4 separate regions of the Homo sapiens genome follow, and regions 2, 3 and 4 are each reported to be linked to region 1. The links are microRNA targets in miRTarBase. Many come from high-throughput screens and were not tested one by one. Region 1 holds a microRNA gene; each other region holds the end of a gene's coding sequence. Distances are between the middles of the regions.
The links. The annotated mature microRNA hsa-miR-570-3p reads CGAAAACAGCAAUUACCUUUGC and lies in region 1 at 1,710-1,731, shown strand. An mRNA with a match to its seed (bases 2 to 7 or 8) in the 3' UTR can be bound and repressed. Matches are read on the target gene's strand: a 7mer-m8 pairs with bases 2 to 8, a 7mer-A1 pairs with bases 2 to 7 and ends in A, and an 8mer does both.

Region 2: miRTarBase lists P3H2 as a target of hsa-miR-570-3p. Seed matches in the 3' UTR shown: 7mer-m8 at 805-811 and 7mer-m8 at 1,439-1,445.
Region 3: miRTarBase lists VPS26B as a target of hsa-miR-570-3p. Seed matches in the 3' UTR shown: 7mer-m8 at 1,252-1,258 and 7mer-m8 at 782-788.
Region 4: miRTarBase lists CDC5L as a target of hsa-miR-570-3p. Seed matches in the 3' UTR shown: 7mer-A1 at 391-397 and 8mer at 2,782-2,789.

What each region holds. Positions count from the first base shown.
Region 1 is chr3:195,697,751-195,700,889 of GRCh38, forward strand. MIR570 (microRNA 570) reads left to right here and starts at 1,651; the gene lies at 1,651-1,747. All of the region lies in intron 2 of MIR570HG (MIR570 host gene), which reads left to right. LOC124909477 (a long non-coding RNA gene) reads left to right here. Exons shown (of 2, transcript XR_007096227.1): 2 at 1,280-1,320.
Region 2 is chr3:189,955,419-189,958,534 of GRCh38, reverse strand. P3H2 (prolyl 3-hydroxylase 2) reads left to right here. Exons shown (of 15, transcript NM_018192.4): 15 at 531-1,807. The coding sequence ends at 623. Among named protein-coding and RNA genes, the nearest start is that of MIR944, 130 kb to the right of the region's middle.
Region 3 is chr11:134,245,178-134,248,299 of GRCh38, reverse strand. It overlaps VPS26B (VPS26 retromer complex component B), which reads right to left. Exons shown (of 6, transcript NM_052875.5): 6 at 512-2,856. The coding sequence ends at 2,710. THYN1 (thymocyte nuclear protein 1) reads left to right here. Exons shown (of 7, transcript NM_014174.3): 7 at 1-18. Among named protein-coding and RNA genes, the nearest start is that of THYN1, 6.6 kb to the left of the region's middle.
Region 4 is chr6:44,446,362-44,449,500 of GRCh38, forward strand. CDC5L (cell division cycle 5 like) reads left to right here. Exons shown (of 16, transcript NM_001253.4): 16 at 246-3,139. The coding sequence ends at 350. Among named protein-coding and RNA genes, the nearest start is that of MIR4642, 12 kb to the left of the region's middle.

The DNA.
Region 1 (3,139 bases):
GGCTCTATCAGTTATGCCTCTATTCTGTATGTTTAACCTCGCCCTCGTAGGGGCATAAAACAGCATTTAAACAGGATCAAGCTTTCCATTTTAAAACTCCATACACTCCCTTAATTTCATCTCCTCCTCCACCTACTGCCCCATGTCTCTCCCTCTTCCTGGCTAAACGTCTCAAAAAAGTGGATACACTTTCTGTCAACTCCTAAACACTCCTCACGCTCATTTGGCCTCTGCTCCTCCCTTCCTCCTCCCACTTCATTGGAACTACTTCTGCCAAAGAGGATCCCTGAGTCAGCCTGACTGGTAACCCCAATGGACTCTACTCAATATGCAACATCCTTCACTTCTTAGCAGAGTTTGAAACAGCCTGACTCTCCTCTTCTGGCAACATTCTTTTCCTTGGTTTGGGGACGCTGTACTGTTCTGGTTTTGCCCCTCCCTCCGAGCATTCCTTGTGTTTGTCCTGGCCCATTTTCTCCTCTCATTCTACATCCTCTCCCCGGGGATTTTAGCTTCTCTCACGGCTCAGGTTACCATCTCCATAGTGATGACTATCAAATTCTGTACCTCATTTCCAGAGGCTCCTGACAGACTTGCTTGGTCAATATACTACTGGACATATTCATGAGACTGTCTCACACAGGCATCTCGAACCCAGTGTGTCCCACAATTCTCTTCCTATCCATGCCTGTTCCTCTTCCACTGCCTCATATGTCGGTGACTGTCCACCTTCTCTCTCTCTCCCCCTCTCCGTTTGGCTCATAGGAAAAGTGTCACCAAGGGCTGTAAGTGCAGATTTCTAATTATCCCCTAAATTTGAACATTTTTCCTCTCGAAAGTGTATGGCCATTACCCTATTACAGATCAACATCTTCAATCACTGGAATGATGGCAATAATCTAATTGGGTTCATTTTATCCTCTATCTAACAATGACAACTCATTGCCTACACAGCAGGTAGAAGGAGTTTGTTTTCAGAATTGCCCTCTGACCTATTTAAGACGCTCAGATATTCCCTGAGGCTCCTTGGCCTGGCCACAAAGGCCCTACACATTCTGGCTGCTTCCTCCTTTCCAGCATCCTCTCTCACGTCTCCTCTCCTCAGTTCCACCCTCAGGAGGCACCAGAATTCCTCACTTCTTTGACTACAAGGCACCGTCTTACTCCCAAGACCAGTGAATCCGAAGGTGGACCACCAGCTGAGGGACTAGATTCCAGACTGAATAGAACAACTTTCCCTGTCTCTCCACATAAAGTGTGTTTGTTTTTCCTCTTACAGGTTTCCTTAATGACAACAAAAAAGGGAGTAATCCTACCCACTGTAAGAGTCATGACTCTTGATTGCAGCTGACAGAAACTCATGACAGCCTGCTTTAGATGAAGGGGGAGAGAAGGACTGGAAGAATCTTGGAGTTGGGAATGTCACACGTAATTGAAGGAAGAACAAGAAAACTATAGTAAAGAACCCTGGGGTGGTGATGTAGTCATGGGCCAAGTGTCCTGGAACCCTGGGGTGGTGATGTAGTTGTGGGCCAAGTGTCCTGGAACCCTGGGGTGGTGATGTAGTCATGGGCCAAGTGTCCTGGAACCCTGGGGTGGTGATGTAGTTGTGGGCCAAGTGTCCTGGGTTTTGGGTGGAGAAAGAGTCCCCTAGATAAGTTATTAGGTGGGTGCAAAGGTAATTGCAGTTTTTCCCATTATTTTAATTGCGAAAACAGCAATTACCTTTGCACCAACCTGATGGAGTCCCCCTTGCCATGCTTCTCTCTGTGAAAAACCCCAAGCCGAAGTCAGCATAACATCCACAGGACTCTATGTTTGCAAAAGCCAGCTTAGCTATATTACATGTATAAGCACATTTTTTCAATAAGTCAGCCTTAGCTTACTGTAACTTTTTAACTTTATAAACTTAGTATTTTAACTTTTTAAACTTTTTTGTTGAAAACTAAGACACAAAAACACATGTTAGCCTAGATCCACACAGGGTCAGGGTCATCAGTATCACTGTCTTCCACCTCCACATTTTGTCTCTCTGGAAGGTCTTCAGGGGCAATAACACACATGGAGCTGTCATCGCCTGTGGTAACAATGCCTTCTACAGTACTTCCCAAAGGGCCTGCTAGTTCACTTAATTCTTTTATAGAGAGAAGGAGTACACTCTAAAACACTGATCAATAGTATATTATAGTAAATACATAAACCAGGAACACATTTATTATCATTATCACGTATTGTGTATTGTACAGAATGGTGTGTGCTGTGCTATCCAGGAACACATTTATTATCATTATCAAGTATTGTGTACTGTACAGAATGGTGTGCGCTGTGCTTTTATGCAAGTGGCAGCACAGTAGCTTTACACGAGCATCACTAGACACATGAGTAGCATTGCACTCGGCAACAGGAATTTTTTCAGGCCCATTATTATAATCTTATGGGACCGCATCCTATATGCAGTTTGTCATTGACCAAAATGTCCTTATGCGATGCATGACTATATTTGCAAAGGACTAGTATCTAGAATACATTTAAAAGTCTTAAAATAGTAACAAAACAAAGAATGCAATTAGAACATGAGCAAAAGATACAAAGCAACATTTCACTGGAGAAGATATACAGATTGCAAATAAGCACATGAAAAGATGTTTGATACCATTAGGGAAACGCTTCTTTAAACCAGGAGATATCACCACGTGTTAGAATCAACAAAATAAGGCCAGGCATGGTGGCTCACACCTGTAATCCCAACACTTTGGGAGGCTGGGGCAGGCAGATCACATGAGATCAGGAATTCAAGACCAACCTGGCCAACATGGCAAAACCCTGTCTCTGCTGAAAACACAAAAATTAGCCAGGTGTGGTGGCACACGCCTGTAGTCCTAGCACCTTGGGAGGCTGAGGCAAGATAATTGCTTAAACCCAGGAGACGGAGGTTGCAGTAAGCTGAGATCATGCCACTGCGCTCCAGCCTGGGCGACAGAGCAAGATTATGTCTCAAAAAAAAAAAAAAAAAAAAGAATCACCAAAATAAAAAATAGTAACAATACTATTGTCAAGGATGCAAAGGAACTGTACCACTCAATCACTGCTGTGAGAATTTAAAGTGGTGCAGCCACTCTGGGAAACAGCTTGGCTGTTT
Region 2 (3,116 bases), 5.7 Mb from region 1:
TCTAAAAATGTCAATCAGACCAAAATTGAGAAACCCTGACCTAAACTCCGGCAACAATAGTGCATTGAGGAGAAAGGGGCAGAGACAGCAGATAGAACAGAATAGGTGACTTATCAGATGCAGGAAACCATGGTCGGGCTTTTAAGGCAAATAGGTGAGCGATGTTGGTCTTTACCGAGAGAGAGCCTACGTGAAGAACAGAGCAGGTTCTTGGGGAGAAAATGGTGAATTCAGCTTGACCACTGAACTGAGTTGGAGATGGCTATGGGGCCATGAATTAGAAAGAGTAGGAAGCAGTTGAACATACAGTCGTTCTTTGCAGGAGAGAAAATCTTAGAAAGTAATTGCTTAGGACCCAGGAATGTTAGGAGAAGGCATCTGTCTGGGGATGAAGAGGAGGTGTTCAATGCTTAACTGGATATAGCATCAACCCATGTACAGATGGATGCCAGGAAGTGTTTGGGAAGCGTCTGCTGATGAGACTGATTATTATGCTTGTAACAGAAATGTGTAAATTGTCTTTTTTGCAGGAGCGAATACAGGCTGATGAAGTGATTGCAATTCTGGATCAAGAACAGCAAGGGAAGCATGAACTGAATATCAACCCTAAAGATGAGCTATAAAAATGAGAAAGAATGTTCTATCAAATATTTATTTAAATTGTTAATCTTATGAGAACCTTTTTATTTTTGTACAGAGCCATGGTATAAATTAACAGGTTAATGTCAGTCATCAGATCTTCCTTCTCTTCCTAAGGATGCTTGTGTTGCCTCAATCTATCAATCTATCTTTCTTGTTTTGGGTTGTTTTCTCTCTCTCTCTCTCTCTCTCTCTTCTTAGAGACATGGTCTAACCATGTTGTCTAGGATATAGGGCAGTGGCTATTCACAGATGTGATGATAGCACACTGGAGCCTCAAACTCTTAGGCTCAGGCGATCCTTCAAGCCTCCCGGGGAGCTGGGACCACAGGCACGTGCCACCACACCCAGCTCTCTTTCTTGGTTTTTCATCATTTCATGTATCTATCAAAGCCCAGTTCACCTCCTCCCCCAAACACACACACACACACACACACACACACACACACACACAATTAAGTTGCTGCAAATTCAAAAGCTTAGAGAGAATAAGCTTCTTGGTGGTGAAACTACAACTCTCACGTGTGCTCCAGTTCTAAAATTAACCTGTGCCTGGTCTCTGAAGCCCTTTCTTGCTCTGTGCCTTTCAGCCACATCCTTAGGTGCTAACGGCCATGAGCTCCGACTCTCCAAAGTGAGCTCCACTTTGGGTCTGAGGAGCCCCTGGCAGAGTCCACGCTGCCTCAGGTATCATGGGCGTAATGATCACCCAGGCTCCGGGAGATCTCATGGATGATTACTGTATGAGACAGAGGGGACTTCAGTCTTTCCAGGGCCTTGGTGGAATTTTTGGCTCTGGTGTTTTCGCCAGACAATAAACTTACACTGGAAGCTTTGATTCACCCTCCACAGTACTCCAGAAAGGACTGTCCTATAAGTTGTACACTTTAAAAGGTCATGTAGAGGTTGTAGTAGAATGGCTTTTCACCCTGGTGACTTTGGAAGAAACTCTTGAATACTGCCTGCATCCGGGCACCATGGCCAGGTTGCCTAGGAGTGGGGTCCACTGATGAAAAGAGGTGTTTTGTACTTACATAAGAAAAATAAATTTCTGATTGATTTTAACCGTCATCTGCTTATATTTTGGGGGCCCCTCCTCATTGCTGCTATCCAGCACACAGATTTGTGCTTGTGTCTGATTTGTTTAATAAAGGGAGGCTTATTTTAATATCTGGCATTTATTTTTGTTCTCCCAAATGTTTGCTTTATCTTCACAGAATGGTTTTGTAATTACATAGGAGCTTTTGGGACCACTTTAGGGGCAACATTGGGACATGACTAGTGTTGCTGGTGCAGTGGCCTCAGGAAAGGTGGGGACACTGCTCTTGAAGAACAGAGATGGAGACCAAACTGGGCATTGATCCAGAGAATGCTTGGTTCCAGGTCCCACTTCTAAGAAAGACACTACAAAGGCATAGTTCATGGGGGATGGGGTTCTTCTAACCTAGGGGAGACTTTATCATTCGCCCGTGGGAGATCACATGCTTTTATGACGGGCAGTGGTGGAGGGAAGATTTACTTTCTGCCGTTTACAATCTGGTGAGTGGTAAGAACATTCATCCATTGAAATTGAAAATTTGAGTTAGTGATGTATGAACCATCTGTTTTTTACTGAACCTTCTGGTTGTATTTTAATCATGGGAGAGTGGAAAGAGCATTGGATTATCCTCCCAGTTCTATCAAATATGCCCTGCTGTGTGATATGGAACTACTCTCTTTCCCTTTCCAGACTTTAGTTCCCTTCTCTGAAAATGACATAATTGATTGTAACAAGGCCCTCCCTCCTACTCAAAATACAAACAAAGCAAAAAGAAAAAAAAGAAACCAAAACCATTTTAGAAATAGTCACAACCAAATTTATTTCTGCTAACATTTAGAGAGTTGTGAATGGTTTTGTTTTGTTTTGTTTTGTTTTTGAGACGGAGTCTCACTGTCGCCCAGGCTGGAGTGAAGTGGTGTGATCTCAGCTCACTGCAGCCTCCACCACCTCCCGGGTTCAAGCAATTCTCCTGCCTCGGCCTCCTGAGTAGCTGGGATTACAGACGCCTGCCATAATGCCCAGCTAATTTTTGTATTTTTAGTAGAGATGGGGTTTCACTATGTTGGCCAGGCTAGTCTCGAACTCCTGACCTCAGGTGATCCACTCGCCTTGGCCTCCCAAAGTGCTGAGATTACAGGTGTGAGCTACTGTGCCCGGCCGTGAATGGGTTTTTTATGTGTGTACCTGATTTTTAAAAACGTAAACCCAAATTTAGACCTAAAAGTTCTTGAGCTTTGCAAAGGTAGATTGCTATTTGTCCTCCCACTGTGAAGAGCTTGTTGGCACTCAGATTTGCTGATTGGAGGATCTGGGTGAGGATCTGATTTCTGTTTTCTGGCAACAAGGCATCAACATAGAAACAGTCTTTGTTTGGCTCCTTAAAGTTCCCACTTCCTGGGTGCGATGGGCACTAGGGGAGGGGCAGGGACTTCATCAC
Region 3 (3,122 bases), not on the chromosome of region 1:
TAAAATATCAAAGTTGAAGAACTTTTCTTCTAAAACCACACTGAGTGCAGTGGGATACTCCCCACTGCAGACCTCTTACCTCCAGGCGGGCTCCTTTGGCCGCTCCCAGATGCAGAGCTGCCTCCACCTTCTTTCTTTACGATCACTAGTAGTTCTGTAGCAAATTGCATGACGTAGGGCTGAGATCCTCAGTCTGGTAACACCCACTGGAATGAACTCTTCTTTCTACACCAGCCTTGCTCACCTGCCCCTTTCATCTTCTGGGTCCCACAGAGGTTTAAACCATCCCATGAGCAGTTCTGGATAAACTGCCAGATAGGGATAAGAACTGAATTCATTTCTCAGCCATGTGCTTGTCTCAAACAGGTGGCTAATAAAGTATTCATCATTTTTCACCCGGGGCTATACAGTGAGAGCACAGGCACTATGTAGGGAAATCAGGGCAGGGATCTGTCTTTCCCTGAGTGTCGGAGTTGGGACCATGTAAGACGGAAGAGACCACAGAACTTGGTGGACCGTGGGCACAATGCCTCCAAAGCCACAGGGGCTTTCTTTAATCAGAAAGACCATTAAAACAAACGTTCTTCTTTTAATACAGCCATTGAAAAGATGACACATTAAGAAACATGTAAACACTGCAGCTGCTTAATTACAAGTTGCACTGCTTGATTTAGTACCTATGCACTCCCAGGTTTGGGGACCTTAAGAGAGGGGGACAGGAGCCTCCCCTCACTTTCACAGTTGGATAGAGAAGGCAAGAATGTGGGTAGAGTAAGAAAGAGAAAACAGAAGACCTGGCTTGTGCACAGCGCCTGAGAGAATCAAAGCAAATTCTGTCTTCTAGTTCTCCCAGAAGAAAGGTTTAAGATGTTAGGAAGGTTGGAAAATGAACGTGTGTTGTCAGTTGGGAGGCAAAGGAATTGACAAATGCTTCTAGTTAGAATATCAGCTAGGAAAAGGAGGGATACAGAGCCTGACCTCATGCTCTGAAAAGGCAAGGAACCCAGAACTTGCCTCCCTTATCCACTTAAGCCCCAACCTTGATCATCAAGGGCAGCGCATGGGTGATCCTGTTCCCATGAGGATTGTGTGTCGCACCTGAACACAGGACACAGCGTGGGGGAAACAACCTTGCCTTCCTCGGTTCTGCTGCCGCCAGTCGCCCTCCTAGGCTACCCAAAATGCCTCTCCCTCCAGTCTCAGCTCTGATCCATGAGCCCTGCCAAAGGCCTGAGACTGCACTGATCTCAGGAAAACAGAAGTCTTCCTTTCCCACACTAACTGAAAGGTGACACAGGAACCAACTCCTTAACTTTCCAAATTACTGAGAACTCAGACTGCCAAATACCGTACCTCTTGGCCAGTGGGGCCTGCTTGGTCTTTCTATAAAGGGAAGGGAGGCCAATGGGAGAGTAATGCCTGTCATTTCCAGGGGAAGCAGAAAAAGGACAGTAAACAACTTTACTACCATAGGCCCCAGCGCAGAGCCGTAGAGGGAGAAGTACCTTCCTCTCTAGCATAACAAGAATATTCACAAGAGTTTTTTTATATGTGTTTTTTAAACACACGATACCAATGGTCCTAAACTTGGGTCAGTCAACTGGTGAAGATGACCTATTTGGCAAGCAGAATGATTCGGAAGTGTGGCAGCAGTCTTCTGCCGAGGCCCTGGTCTCCCCTGTGTAACCTATAGGGAGAGGGGTAAAGGGGCTTGGGCATTAGTAAGAACAGCCTTGCCAAAGGTTCGAAACTAAGCCCCAATTCCCAGAAATGAAATGGAGGGTGAGGAGAGACGAGGGTTCACTCTCAGCAAGGCGGAGGGATCAAGGCCCCTTCCTGGGATTGGTTCTTCAGGGAACCAGGCCCTCTTGTTAAGGGCTTGCTGGGGCACGTGAAGCAATACCTAGAACAGCCCAGACCTTGGGGTTACCAAGTGGAGCGACGTGAAGGCAGGCGGTTGCCATGCACTCATCTTCCGTGGTGGGCCGGGTTCAGCCTCCTGGGTTCAACACTGCCGCCATCCGTGCACGACACTGACCCCAGGGCTTCTCCGTGCCCAAGGCCATCCCACAGGCTTCTGTTCCAGGACATTACTGACAATCCAGAGAGGATGGAGAAGGGAGGTGCCTGGGTCCCAGCAGTGAGTGGCCAGAAGGAGGTGGCCTGTGGGAACTTGAGATCACCACATCCAAGATTCCCAAAGAGGTAGCTTCCCAATCGTGAGTCTTCCCCTGCCACTTAGTGGGGGCTGGCCCAACTCCTGCCACTACCTCCGGGACAGCAAAGGGGAGTACAAGATGTGACTACCCAGGGCCCTGTTGGCAGCTCAGAATCCCAGGGACATGCTCAGATCCTGTATCAGGAAGCTCAGAGAGCCAGGAGCCAAGGATGCGTGCTCTCTGCTCTCCCTCCTCTAAGACGCAAGGCAGCCCCCCGAGGAAGGGGGCTCATGTTCCCCAGAGAGGCTGGCTTCCAGGATGCTACCTCTTCTATCCCACATCGGCCGCAGAATCCCAAGGAGAGACTGCTTCCCACCCCAAGCCCCTTGGGTTCTCCAGAGAAAAGAATTTAAGTCAAAAACATGATTTGTTTTCAGGTTGCAAGTAACGGGTCAACTGAGCCTCACAAGGTCCGCCCCCGCCCCCAGCCGCTGGTGTTGGTAGATGGGGGTGCTGGGTGGGTGCCCAGCATCTTCTCGGCCCTGGGGGCCTACTGCCTGCAGTTGTTGTCAGACAGCTGGCTGGGGGTCCGCACCTCACCCAGGGAGGTGGTGCCCTCAAAGCGCTGTGAGGCGATGGCCGCCTGGTGGGACATGCTCTTCCGTACGATGTCACCCTTCCGCCACAACACCACTTCCTGCAGAATTGAAAGGGGGGCAATGTGACACCTTAGAGGGAGGCATGGGGACAGGTTTCCTAGAGGCTCCCAACTTTGACGTGGGGAATCTCGGGCAAGGACCTCCTCTGCTTCTCTCTCACCAAAGGCAGCAGCTGCCAGCACCTCCCTGTCCCTGGTGTGGGCCAAAAGGGCAGGTGGTTGCAGGAGAAGGCCCGAGGAAGCAGACTCTAAGGCCAGGTGAGAATCCTCATTCTTGTTGTGCAATTGTGGGCGACCTAATGTTC
Region 4 (3,139 bases), not on the chromosome of region 1:
GTATTGATAAGACAGTAGTGGTTTGTTTATTTGAAGTAGCAGCAGGATTTCATATGACCAAATCAAAGAATGGCTGTGATACTGGTTTTATAGCAAAAGTATTTGATATGTTTGTTTCTCTTTGAGAAATATTTAACTCTTAAGAATCATGATTTAACTCAGCTGGTTTTTAAGATAATAAAGTACTGTAGATTTTTTTCAGTATAGTTACATCTAAAATAATTACTTAATTTTTTTTCTTTAAGTGTCTAAAAGAAGACGTTCAGCGACAACAAGAAAGAGAAAAGGAACTTCAACATAGATATGCTGATTTGCTGCTGGAGAAAGAGACTTTAAAGTCAAAATTCTGAAGTACAGTTTATATTCTGTCACAGGATTAATTAATTGCCGGTTTTCATACTCTAGAAGGCTGAAACTGATGTTTATCTTCATTGACAAATTTACCCACCATCTGTGGTTTTTCAGTTGTTTATTTTAAATGATATCGATCTTACACATTCTGTGTATAAAGACCTTAACTCCACAGGACGGACATTTTAGAGTTTAAATTATTAAGGCTATCATTCTTTTAGTAATGTCATATTTGCAAACTTTTTTAGTTTTGGCCTTTAATTTAAAAAGCCTAATTTTAAAGTGCTGCCTGTGAGTAACTCTTGAATAAAAACAAAATATAAAAAATTGAGAATGTAGCCTTTTGTTTGAAGTAATTAGATACTTAAGAGTGCCTGCAAACCAGCAGCTATGTACTCTGTGTCATATTTAATGAGTAACTCTTGGGTAATCAAAATGGTGATGCAGTATCTTAAACACTTAAGAGGCAGTTCTTTGTGGCTTTGTTAGTTTCAGCAAAGAGTGGTCATTTCTGTATACACTGACAAGTTAGATTAACTTTTTAGTACCTCAAATTTTTTTTTTGTTAATATCACTTTAAAGAAGGTCTCTTGTCTGCCAGCTACTTAAATAATTTATGGGTCAGGGCTTAAAAGATTTAACTTCCTTGCCCCATTATTTTCTTATAAGTATTTTTTGACAAAGGCATTTTAAAAGTTAATTTCAAGAAGGCCATCAAACTTAAAGCTCTATGTTTAGCCTAAGAAGTCAGTTACATCAGTGTAGAATTTGGGGAATGGATAGAGGTGGAGATATTTAATTTTATATAATTCATATAAATTGATTTAGTTACAGTATCAGTTGGCTACAAGCTCATTATAGACTAGCAATGTTTTGACATCACCAAAAACGTTTGCCCAGTCTTAGAATACTAGGGACTATAGGAAGGGAAGGGATTCATTCATTCATTCGATATTGAATGTATACCCTGTGCCAGAGTCTTAGAGAGAGAACAACAAACAAAATAGGCCTAGTTCTTGTTTAGTAGAGCTTATAGTCTTTTGAGAATGACAGACAATTAAAATCCAAATGTTTATTTGGTGATTCTTATGTGTCAGACACTTAAGTGTTGGGAGATAAGCAGTTATTAAGACAGAGTTCTTGCTCTCATGGAGGTGACATTAGTGGGGAGGAGATACTAAGTATGTCCAGGGAAAGTATCAGACCATGAGTTTTAGATTCTGTGGAGGAAATTAAAGTAGGGTGATTATGAGATAGTGAATGAGTGGCTATTTTAGACTGGACGATCAAAGAGACCTCTTGGAAGGCAGCTATGCTCACCACTATACCACTGCACTGTGCCGCACCGTACCACTATAAGCTGCACGGCCAAAGAGACCTCTTAAAGAAGTAACATTTAAGATAACATGTGATTGACATTTTAGAATGGGCTATCCTTGTGAGATTCAAGGAAAGAACATCCTAGGTGGAGTGAATAGCAAACATAAAGCCTCTTTTGTATGTTTGAGGAACAAAAAGGACAATGCAGCTAGAGTGTCAAGAATGGCATTTCTGTATATAAGACCTCGTTGTATAGAGCCACATAAATAAGGCTATAATAAGGAATTTGGATCTTACTTTAAATATGATAAGAATCGATGAGAAGATCTAAGCAAAGGAATGACATGATCAGATTTGGTTTTAGAAACATCACTATCTCCTTAGTGTGTAAAATCTCACCAGGCTGGAGATAGGGAAGCCAGTCCAATTAGGAGCCTGATGCAGTGATCCAGACAAAAAAATAATAGTGATTCTAACTAGAGTCCAGGTAATAGTAGTGGAGATATGTGGAGAGACATGATAGGTATATACTTAATAGTCTTATCAGACGATAAATTGATATTTTCCTGGTGTGTAGTCACTTAATTCAAATACTTTTTTCAGTAAGTTCTGGGTTTTCTAGGAAAAACTTCAGTATCATCAGTGAATAATGATAGTGTTTCTTCTGATAGTTTTATTTCACTTTTATTGCATGTTTTGTTATCTGAAATGTTTAGGACAATGTTAACAATAATGATGTTAGACATTTTTTTTTCTTATTTTAATGGGAATGTCCATAGTTTTAAGTTTGCTGTTGGGAGTTAGATAGTCTTTATCTGAAAGACAGTGTCTCTCTTTTAGTTTTTAAAGAGTTTGAATTAGAAATGGCTCTGGAACTTTAAACAGTATACCATTTGGGCATCTATTAAAGCATTCATATAATTGTTCTCATTTGATGTTTTGATGAGGTATATTAATAGATTTTCCCACATTAAATCATCTTTGCACTCCTGGAATCAGGTAGATTAATTTTTAAAAGAAATTTTAAAGGATTTATAGTTTATTTGCACTTTTTGTAGACTTGAATTATATGGATTTAAAAGTTGATCTAATATTAATAAAGGCTCACTTTGTTTTCAAAATTTGAAGTAATTCACATACTTATAGCCTAAAAAAATCGGCAGGAATTACAAAATTTCAAAACTGGCACATTGTAAACTGCATATGCATTTGCCAGGTAGTGGTGCCACTTGAAATGGTGAACAGACACACTGTTATCCTTTGTCAGTATCCTGTAAAGCCCAGGATTCTTTACCAGCACCATACAGCGATTTTGGTGACTATTTTAACATTCACACTGAGGCCAGGGGTGGTGAGTCATGCCTGTAATCCTAGCACTTTGGGAGGCCAAGGTGGGAGGATCATTTGAGCTCAGGAGTTCAAGATTAGCCTGGGTAACATAGTGAGACCCTGTCTCTATTAAAAAATA